Linked DNA regions of Homo sapiens. The protein of the gene in region 1 purifies or fractionates together with the protein of each later gene. This does not show direct contact. Each region holds a gene or a part of one and is shown on either strand. Other genes may lie near its edges. The genes, in order: NCAN, MNAT1 and LIG1.

The links.
Region 2: the proteins of NCAN (region 1) and MNAT1 fractionate together in Homo sapiens (co-fractionation; one large-scale study listed by BioGRID). This does not show direct contact.
Region 3: the proteins of NCAN (region 1) and LIG1 fractionate together in Homo sapiens (co-fractionation; one large-scale study listed by BioGRID). This does not show direct contact.

Annotation. Positions count from the first base shown.
Region 1 is NC_000019.10:19,242,856-19,246,506, forward strand, and holds part of NCAN (neurocan core protein precursor), read left to right. Parts: intron 1-2,457; coding exon 2,458-2,602; intron 2,603-3,651. UniProt on the Homo sapiens protein: May modulate neuronal adhesion and neurite growth during development by binding to neural cell adhesion molecules (NG-CAM and N-CAM). Chondroitin sulfate proteoglycan; binds to hyaluronic acid.
Region 2 is NC_000014.9:60,741,242-60,744,892, forward strand, and holds part of MNAT1 (CDK-activating kinase assembly factor MAT1), read left to right. Parts: intron 1-3,651.
Region 3 is NC_000019.10:48,114,824-48,118,374, reverse strand, and holds the end of LIG1 (DNA ligase 1), read left to right. Parts: intron 1-593; coding exon 594-737; intron 738-2,409; coding exon 2,410-2,502; intron 2,503-2,642; coding exon 2,643-2,726; 3' UTR 2,727-2,930; downstream 2,931-3,551.

The DNA.
Region 1 (3,651 bases):
CAGGTGCAGTGGTTCATGCCTGCAATCCCAGCACTTTTGGAGGCCAAGGTGGGTGGATTGCTTGAGTTGTGGAGTTTGAGACCAGCCTGGGCAACATGGCGAAACCCCATCTCTACAAAAAATTCAAAAATTGAGACAGAGCGAGACTCCGGCTCAAAAATAAAATAAAATAAAATAATAAACAAAATGTGGAATGAGCCAGGCATAGAAGGCCAGCTGTTGTATGATTTTTTTTTTTCATGAAGCATTCAGAGTAGGCAAATTTAGAGACAGGAAGTAGATTAGTGTTTGCCAGGGGCTGGGGTCGGGAGAAGGGGGAGTCACTAGTGCTCAATGAGTACAGAATTTTGGTGTGTTGTGATGAAAAAGTTCTGGAAATAGGCTGTGCGGGGTGGCTCAGGCCTGTAATCCCAACACTTTGGGAGGCTGAGGTGGATGGATCACAAGGTCAGGAGTTCAAGACCAGCCTGACCAATATGGTAAAACCCTGTGTCTACTAAAAATACAAAAATTAGCCAGGCGTGGTGGCGTGCACGTGTAATCCCAGCTACTCAGGAGGTTGGGGCAGGAGAATCGCTTGAACCTGGGAGGCGGAGGTTGCAGTGAGCCAAGATCATGCCACTGCACTCCAGCCTGGGCGACAGAGAGAGACTCCATCTCAAAAAAAAAAAAAAAAAAAGAAAAAGAAAAAGTTCTGGAAATAACAATGATGGTTATGCAACATTGTGAATGTAATTAGTGCATTAAACTGCACACCGCCTCTTGAACCCGGGAGGCGGAGGTTGCAGCGAGCCAAGGTAGCACCACTGCAATCCAGCCTGGATAATAGAGACTCTGTCTCAACAAAATAAAAATAACAATAAACTGCACACGTAAAAATGGTTAAAATTGGCCAGGTGCGGTGGCTCACGCCTGTAATCCCAGCACTTTGGGAGGCCAAGGTGGGTGGATCGCGAGGTCAGGAGTTCAAGACCAGCCTGGCCAACATGGTGAAACCCCATCTCTACTGAAAATACAAAAATTAGCTGGGCATGGTGGCGCATGCCTGTAATCCCAGCTACTCAGGAGGCTGGGGCAGGAGAATTGCTTGAACCGGGACCTGGGAGGCGGAGGTAGCAGTGAGCGAGATCGCACCACTACACTCCAGCCTGGGCTCTGTCTCAAACAAAACAAAACAAAACAAAACAAAAATGGTTAAAATTAGGAATTATGTGCTATATATATTTTGCGCTATATATATTTTGCCACAATTTTTAAAAATTCACTTCCTTTTCTCTGATGCAAGATCTGGTCCCTCTCTACTCTCTGAGCACACCCCAGCCCCATCACGCAGCTCCAGCCCCACTGGGCTTTGTCTGTTCCTCAAGCAGAACAAGTTCAGTCCTGCCTCTGAGCCTTCACACTGGTGGTTCCCTTTGCTAGGAATGCTGTTCCCTGTCTGAACCCTTACTATCTTTTTTTTTTTTTTTTTGAGATAGAATCTCACTCCATCACCCGGGCTGGAGTTCAGTGATGCAACCCAGCTCACTGCAACCTCTGCCTCCCAGGCTCAAGGGATTCTCCTGCTTCAGCATCCCGAGTATCTTGGGACTACAGGCGCGCACCATCATGCCCGGCTAATTTTTGTATTTTTATGAGAGACAGGGTTTCACCTTGTTGTCCAAGGTGGTCCCAAACTCCTGACCTCAAGTGATCTGACCCCCTTGGCCTCTCAAAGTGCTGGGATTACAGGCATGAGCCACTGAGCCCGGCCTTGAATCCTTACTATCTTTGATTCTTTAACTCTCACATTGCCTCCTCAGGGAAGTCCTCCTGGACTTCGGGCTGAGATCACCATTTGTCCCACCATGTATCTTTTTTCTTTTTCTTTTCCTTTTTTTTTTTTTTTTTGAGGCAGAGTCTCGGTCTTGTCACCCAGGCTGGAGTACAATAGCGCAATCTCGGCTCACTGCAACCTCTGCCTCCCGGGTTCAAACAATTCTCCTGCTGGGATTACAGGCTCCCACTACCATGCCTGGCTAATTTTTTGTATTTTTAGTGGTGATGGGGTTTCACCATATTGACCAGGCTGGTCTTGAACTCCTGACCTCAGGTGATCCGCCCACCTCGGCCTCCCAGAGTGCTGGGATTACAGGCATGAGCCACCAGGCCTGGCCTTGTCCCACCACTTATCTAACACTGATTCATGTTGAAAATGAACTGGGTGCGGCCGGGCACCCAGGGAGGCAGGAGGACCAGGGAGGAGAATGCTGCAGCCTCCAAACCAGAGGAATGGTGTATTGGATTACAGTGGTGGCCCCCGTCAGGATGGGCAGGACAGTGGCCATTGTAGAGATGGGAACACTGAATCCCTGTGAGTTTGAGGGGTCTGGCCAGGGGAGTCCCACAGCAGGAATTGCCAGAACCTGGGCTGGAACAGAGGTCCCCTGAACAACTCCCTGCCCCCTATTCCTGCAGCAATTTGAGAACTGGCGAGAGAACCAGCCGGACAATTTCTTCGCGGGTGGCGAGGACTGTGTGGTGATGGTGGCGCATGAAAGCGGGCGCTGGAACGATGTCCCCTGCAACTACAACCTACCCTATGTCTGCAAGAAGGGCACAGGTATGCTGTGCCCCCTGCTTCTTTTCCTCTCTGTCACTTTTGCTCACTGGTTCTCTGTTGCCCAGGCTGGAGTGCAGTGGCATAATCATGGCTCATCACAGCCTCCACCGCCTGGGTTCAAGCCATCCTCCTGCCTCAGCTTCCCGAGTAGGTGGGACTATAGGCATGCACCAACATGCCCAGCTAATTTTTGTATTTTTTGTAGAGATGGGGTCTTGCCATGTTGCCCAGGCTGGTCCCGAACTCCTGGGCTCAAGCGATCTGCCTGTCTCAGCCTCTCGAAGTGCTGGGATTATATGCATAAGCCATTGTGCCCAGCCTTGATTCATTTTTTTTTTTCATGAAGCATTCAGAGTACACAAATTTAGAGACAAGAAGTAGATTAGTATTTGCCAGGGGCTAGGGTTTGGGAGAAGGGGGAGTCACTAGTGCTTAATGGGTATAGAATTTTGGTGTGTTGTGATGAAAAAGTTCTGGAAATAGGCCGCTCGGGGTGGCTCATGCCTGTAATCCCAACACTTTGGGAGGCCAAGGTGGGTGGGATTATATTTTATTTTTTTAATTTATTCTTATTTTGTTTTTACTTATTTATGTTTTTGGAGACAGTTTCGCTCTTGTTGTCCAGGCTGGAGTGCAAAGGCATGCTCTTGGCTCACTTCAACCTCTGCCTCCCATGTTCAAGTGATTCTCCTGCCTCAGCCTCCTGAGTAGCTGGGATTACAGGCGTATGCCACCACGCCCAGCTGGTTTTTATATTATTAGTAGAGACGGGGTTTCACCATGTTGGCCAGGCTGGTCTCGAACTCCTGACCTCAGGTGATCCACCCACCTCGGCCTCCCAAAGGGCAGGGATTACAAGCATGAGCCACTGCACCTCGCCTTCATCTTTTTAAGTTGGTAAATGTCAGTGCAGCCAGTTCTCACTTTCCACCAGCGTATGAGAGTGCTTGTTTCCTCCCACCCTTGCTAACTCTGCACATTCTTAAACTTTTGTTCTTTGTTCATCTAAGTGGGGAAAAATAGTATCTCATTGTTATCTTAGTTTGCAT
Region 2 (3,651 bases), on another chromosome or scaffold:
ATATCAGTGGCACAATCATAAACTCCTGGGCTCAAATGATCCTCCTGCCTCATCCTCTTGAGTAGCTAGGACTACAGGTGCATGGCACCACACCTGGCTTATTTATTTATTTATGTATTTATTATTTTTATTTTTTGAGATGGAATCTCGCTCTGTTGCCCAGGCTGGAGTGCAGTGGCGCGATCTCAGCTCACGGCAAGCTCCGCCTCCCAGGTTCACACCATTCTCCTGCCTCAGCCTTCCGAGTAGCTGGGATTACAGGCACGGGCCACCACGTCTGGCTAATTTTTTGTATTTTTAATAGAGACAGGGTTTCACTGTGTTAGCCAGGATGGTCTCGATCTCCTGACCTCGTGATCCTCCTGCCTCGGCCTCCCAAAGTGCTGGGATTACAGGCGTGAGCCACTGCGCCTGGGGTTTTTTTTTTTTTTTTTTTTTTAATTTTTAGTAGAGATGGGGTCTTGCTATGTTTCCCAAGCTGGTCTCAAACGCCTGAGCGCAAGTGATCCTCCTGCCTGGGCCTCCCAAAATGTAGGTATTACAAGAGTGAGCTGCTGTACCTGGCCCCCATCCATTTACTTTCAACCAATTTGTGTCTGTCTCTGGGAGACTCTACTTCACTGGGTCTTGCCATTTTATCTGGATTGACAATCTCTGCCTTTTAATTGGTGTACTAGTCCATTATATCTAATTATTGATATCATTGGGTTTAAGTCTACATGTTTCCTTGTATTCCTTTGGTTTTTTTGTTGTTCTTTTGCTCCTTTCCTGCCTTATTTTGAAATAATTGGATTTTTTAAAGTATTGGCCTATTAGCCGGTAGCTTTTTATTTTTTATTTATTTTTATTTTTTTTTAAATAAGAGACAGGATCTCACTCTATCACCCAGGCTGGAGTGTGGTGGCTTTATCACAGGTCACTGCAACCTTGAACTCAGGGGTTCAAGGGATCCTTCCACTTCAGCCACCCCAGAATTTGGGACTACAGGTGTGCACTGCCACAGCCAGCTAATTTTTAATTTTTTTTTGTAGAGCTAGTCTCTGACTGTGTTGCCCAGGCTGGTCTCAAACTCCTGGCCTCAAGTGATCTACCCACCTCAGCCTCCCAAAGTTCTGGGATTACAGTCACCTTTTATGGCCAACAATTAACTCCTCATTGTTATTATTATTATTAGTGGTTTCTTTCAGCATATCTTTTATTTGTATTTGTGATTTGTTGTTATTTTTGCTTTAAACAGTCAGTTGTCTTTAAGGAAAGGTATGTTTTTAAAAAACTACTTCACTGAATATAATTCACGTACCATAAAATTCACACATTTAAAGTGTACGTTTCAATGGCTTTTAGTATATTCTCAGAGATGTACATATTACCCCACAAAGATACCTCTCACCACTTAGCCGTCACACTCCTCAACTCCCCCCTCCCATAGCACTAGGCAACCAGTTATCTACTTTCTGACTATGTAGATTTTCCTATTCTGGACCTTTCATATAAATGGAATCATACAGTATGTGGTTCTCTGGACTGGCTTCTTTTACATAGTGTAATATTTTCTAGGTTCATCCATGTTGTAGCATGTATGAGTACAACATTTCTTTTTATTGCTGAATATTATTCCATTGTATGGCTATACTACATTTTATCCATTCATCAGTTGAAGAACATTTGAGTCATTTCTACTTTTTGGCTGTTATGAATAATGCTGCTGTGAACATTCATGTACAAGTTTTCGTATGGACAAATGTTTTTGTTTCTCTCATGTATATATTTAGGAGTAGAATTATTGGATCATATGGTAACTCTTTGTTTAGTTTGTTTTCCAATGTGGCTGTACCATCTTATAGCAGTGAATGAGGGCTCTAGTCTCTCTATGTAGTTGCCAATGCTTGTTATAGTTGTCTTTTGATTATAGCCATTCTAGTGGGTATGAAGTGGTGAAATATAGTCTCTTATTTTCACCTATTTACTATCTTTGATATTGCCCTTCTTCCTTTGGATCTGATTTTATAGTCATATTGATTTCCATCTGCCTAAAGAACATTCTTTAGCATTTCTTTTTTTTTTTGAGACGGAGTCTTGCTCTGTCGCCCAGGCTGGAGTACAATGGCACAATCTCGGCTCACTGCAGCCTCCGCCTCCCAGGTTCAAGCGATTCTCCTGCCTCAGCCTCTTGAGTAACTGGGATTACAGGTGTGTGCCACCATGCCCGGCTAATTTTTGTATTTTCAGTAGAGATGGAGTTTCACCATGTTGGCCAGGCTGGCCTTGAACTCCTGACCTCAGGTGATTCGCCTGCCTCAGCCTCTCAAAGTGCTGAGATTACAGGCGTGAGCCACTGCGCCCAGCTCCTTAGCATTTCTTATAGTGTAGGTGTGTTGGTGAAGAATATACTCTGATTTTGTTTATAAGAAAGTGTTTTTATTTCACCCTAGTGTTTGAAGGATATTTTTGCTGAATATAGAATTATGGGTTGGCATTTCTTTGACCATACAAAAGATATCATTTCATTGTTCTCTAGTGTTTCTGTTGAGAAGTTAATTTTACTCATATCTCTTTCTCCCTGTTCTTTAGATTATATATTTTCTATTGATCTATCTTCAGGTTCACTGTTGCCTGTCTGCCATTTCTAATCTCATCCAATAGATTTTTCATTTCTTATTGTATTGTTTTGGTCGTAGAGTTTTCATTTTTATCTTTTTTATAGTTTTCATTTCTCTGATATTTCCCATCTATATACTCATCAAGAATATATTTTTCTTTAGTTCTTTGAATGCATTTTCCTTTAATTTTTTGAACATATTTTCCATTAATTCCTTTAAAATATTTATGATAGTCAATCTTAAGGTTTCTGTCTGTAAGAGTTAACTCCTTGGCTATCTCAGGGTTGGTTTCTTTTTTGTTTGTGTTTTTGAGAGAGCCTCACTCTGTTGCCCATGCTGGAGTGCAGTGGCATGATCTTGGCTCACTGCAACCTCCACCTCTTAGGTTCAAGTGATTCTCCTGCATCAGCCTCCCAAGTAGCTGGGATTACAGGTGCCTGCTACCATGCCTGGCTAATTTTTGTATTTTTAGTAGAGATGGGGTTTTGCCCTGTTGGCCAGGCTGGTCCCAAGCTCTTGACCTCAAGTGATCTGCGTGCCTCGGCCTCCCAAAGTGCGGGGATTACAGGTGTGAGCCATCACGCCCAGCCATCTCAGGGTTGGTTTCTATTGACTGCTTTTATTTGACTGTAGGTTACAGTTTTCTGCTTATTTATTTTTGCATGTTTACTACTTTTTAATTGTAGGTGGTATATTATAGAGATTCTGGATTTTGTATTTTTGTGAAAAGTGTTGATTTTAAAAATTCTTGCAGGTAGTTCAGTTACTGGCAGATAACTTTGAACTTGTGTAGGCTTGGTTTTACTCTTTGCTAGAATGATATGTGGAGAACCCATTGTTTCCTTACTTTAGTGTAACTCAACCTCACATTTTTAATCCCTTCAAAAACTTGTTGGGGCTTGATTTTAGTCTTTGTTAGGGTGCACCTAGAATATGCCTTATTCTAGGATGTGGTTCTTACTCTTAGTTGAGGCATTTTTGATATCTCAGCTGGATATCTGAGATGTTAATAAGGTGTTAATGTGATTTCTCTGCTCTGGCTGGTGGGAAC
Region 3 (3,551 bases), about 29 Mb from region 1:
CTCGTGAGACTTCCTCACTATCACGAGAACAGCACGGGAAAAACCTGCCCCCATCGTTCAGTTACCTCCCACCAGGTCCCTCCACGACACATGGGGATTTTGGGAGCTATGATTCAAGACAAGATGTGGGTGGGGACACACGGACCCTGACACCATCTCTGTCCCACTCTTTGGTTCTCTCTCTCCATTGCCCTCTCTCTCTACATCTCTGTCCCTGTCCCACTGTGTCTCTGTCTCCTTCCTCCAGGTCTCTGGCCCTTTCTCTGCCTCTTTTTGTCTTTAATGTCCTGCCTCAGCCCCCAGGGCCTTTCATTTCTTTCCATCTCCCATTCCTCCCAACTCCCACCTTTCTCAACTTTTTACTTCAAGGGGGTCTTGTTTCTTTTCCCTTCTTTCACTTTCTGTTTCTCTTTCTATTTCTGTTTACTTCAAGGGGGTGTCTTGTTTCTTTTCCCTTATTTCACTTCCTATTTCTGTTTACTTCAAGGGGGTGCCTGTTTTTTTCCCTTCCTCCCTCTCCCCAGCCCTCCAACACTTGGCCTTGACTTTGAGATTCCAGACCCTCTGTTCCTCTCTTCCTCTGCTCACTGCAGGCGCTGGTGCTGCCCAGCCCACGCCCTTACGTGCGGATAGATGGCGCTGTGATTCCCGACCACTGGCTGGACCCCAGCGCTGTGTGGGAGGTGAAGTGCGCTGACCTCTCCCTCTCTCCCATCTACCCTGCTGCGCGGGGCCTGGTGAGTGGCAGAGGACCTGGCCGTGGCCCTGTGTGGGATTCTGGGCGGGCACACAGAGAGCAGAGTAGGGAGGGGACCTTGGCTCACATCTGCTCTTCCAGGTAAGGATCAGGAAGATGAGCTTGCATTTTATTTGAGTGTCAGATAAAAAGATCAAAACATTTTTTCTTTAAAAATGGGCCGGGCATGGGGGCTCGTGCCTGTAATCCCAGCACTTTGGGAGACCGAGGCAGGCAGATCACTTGAGGTCAGGAGTTCAAGGCCAGCCTGGCCAACATGGTGAAACCCCATCTCTACCAAAAATACAAAAATTAGCCATGTGTGATGGCGGGTGCCTGTAGTCCCAGCTACCCAGGAGGCTGAGGCAGGAGAATCGCTTGAACCTGGGAGGCGGAGGTTGCAGTGAGCCGAGATCACACCACTGTACTCCATCCTGGGTGACAAAGCAAGACTCTGTCTCAAAAAAAGAAAAGAAAATTCTTTTCTTAAATAAAAGAATTCCCAGGGCAAGCACAGTGGCTCATGCCTGTAATCCCAGCACTTTGGGAGGCCGAGGCAGGCAGATCACTTGAGGTCAGGAGTTCAAGACCAGCCTGACCAACACGGTGAAACCCCACCTCTACCAAAAAATAGAAAAATTAGCTGGGTATGGTGACCCGTGCCTGTAGAGACGGGGTTTCACCATGTTGACTAGGCTGGTCACAAACACCTGGCCTCAATCCGCCCACCTCGGCCTCCCAAAGTGCTGGGATTACAGGTGTGGGCCACCATGCCCAGCCAAGAACTTACATTTTTGATCTAATTTTTAAAAATGTTTTACCATGCTGCACGTTAGACAGCCAGGGACCCTTAGTAACAAGGCACAGGAGCCGGTGTGTATCCAGCCCTTGCTGTGCAGTGGGCACTGTGTGGTCATCAGCGTGTCACTCATAGACACTCATTTAATCCTCTCAAAATCCGTAAGACGTAGTGACACAAACATCTCCATTTTACGGTGAGGATGTAGAGCCCTAGAGAGCCTGAGTAACTGCCCCTGCATCACGCGGCTCCTGAGAGTTGGGAGCTGGGATTGGAATCCCACAGTCAGATTCTAGAACCCATACCCTGGCGCCGTAGTTCAGCCTCTCAGCCCGAATTACCGTCATTATCGTAACGGCTGTAGCAGGTGGCATTTTTTTTTTTTTTTTTTTGAGTTGGAGTCTCGCTCTGTCACCCAGGCTGGAGTACAGTGGCGCAATCTCAGCTCACTGCAAGCTCCCCACCTCCCGGATTCACGCCATTCTCCTGCCTCAGCTTCCTGAGTAGCTGGGACTACAGGCGCCCGCCACCACACCTGGCTAATTTCTTTTTGTATTTTTAGTAGAGGCGGGGTTTCACCGTGTTAGCCAGGATAGTCTCCATCTCCTGACCTCGTGATCCACCCGCCTCGGCCTCCCAAAGTGCTGGGATTACAGGGGTGAGCCACCGCACCCGGCCAACAGGCAGCATTTCTTGAGCACTTACTGTGCCCGGGTACTGTTCCAAGCACTTTGTCAACTTGTTTAATCCTTATGACAACCCATCGTTCGGCCCCGTCATGTGGATCAGGAAACAGTCCAGAGTGGAGGAGGGAGGAGACTGAGCAGGGGGTCGCTGGGGCTGGACCGCAGGAGTCTCCATCCCGCTTCCGCAGGTGGATAGTGACAAGGGCATCTCCCTTCGCTTCCCTCGGTTTATTCGAGTCCGTGAAGACAAGCAGCCGGAGCAGGCCACCACCAGTGCTCAGGTGAGGTCCTGGGAAGCAGGGGTGGGCCGCCCAGCTGCTTGGCCCTACCAGCTTTTTAGCGTGGTGGCCTCTCTGGAACCTTGTGGAGGTGGGAGCAGCCAGGGAGCTTCTGACCACCCCGTCCCACCCTCTCTCCGCAGGTGGCCTGTTTGTACCGGAAGCAAAGTCAGATTCAGAACCAACAAGGCGAGGACTCAGGCTCTGACCCTGAAGATACCTACTAAGCCCTCGCCCTCCTAGGGCCTGGGTACAGGGCATGAGTTGGACGGACCCCAGGGTTATTATTGCCTTTGCTTTTTAGCAAATCTGCTGTGGCAGGCTGTGGATTTTGAGAGTCAGGGGAGGGGTGTGTGTGTGAGGGGGTGGCTTACTCCGGAGTCTGGGATTCATCCCGTCATTTCTTTCAATAAATAATTATTGGATAGCTACTTTGTGACAGGGTCTGTGCTGGGCTCTGGGGGCAAAGCTGTCATGGGTGTCACCTGCATAGCATGTAGCCATGTAGCCATGGCCTAGGAACTGCCAGAGCCAGTGCCAGCCATGGAACTGCCTGCAGTGGTGGGCGTCTTCTCTATCTGCTCTGTGCAGTGTGACCGCCACTGGCCACCTGCAATGCCCGAGCCCTTGACAGGTGGCCAGCATGACAGAGGATGCGAATTTGTTTTGTTTTGTTTTGTTTTGATTTTGTTTTGAGACAGAGTCTCGCTCTGTTGCCCAGGCTGGAGTGCGATGATGAGATCTCAGCTCACTGCAACCTCCACCTTCCGGGTTCAAGTGATTCTCTTGCCTCAGCCTCCCATGTAGCTGGGATTACAGGAATGTGACACCACGCCTGGCTAATTTTTGTATTTTTAGTAGAGATGGGGTTTCGCCATGTTGGCCAGGCTGATCTTGAACTCTTGGCCTCAAGCGATCCACCCTCCTCAGCCCCCCTAAGTGCTGGGATTACAGGCGTGAGCCACCACACCCAGCCATACCAAATATTTTATTTAATTGTATTGGACAGCAGTAGTCTAAAATCTTTACATACATATATTTTTTAACTTGTT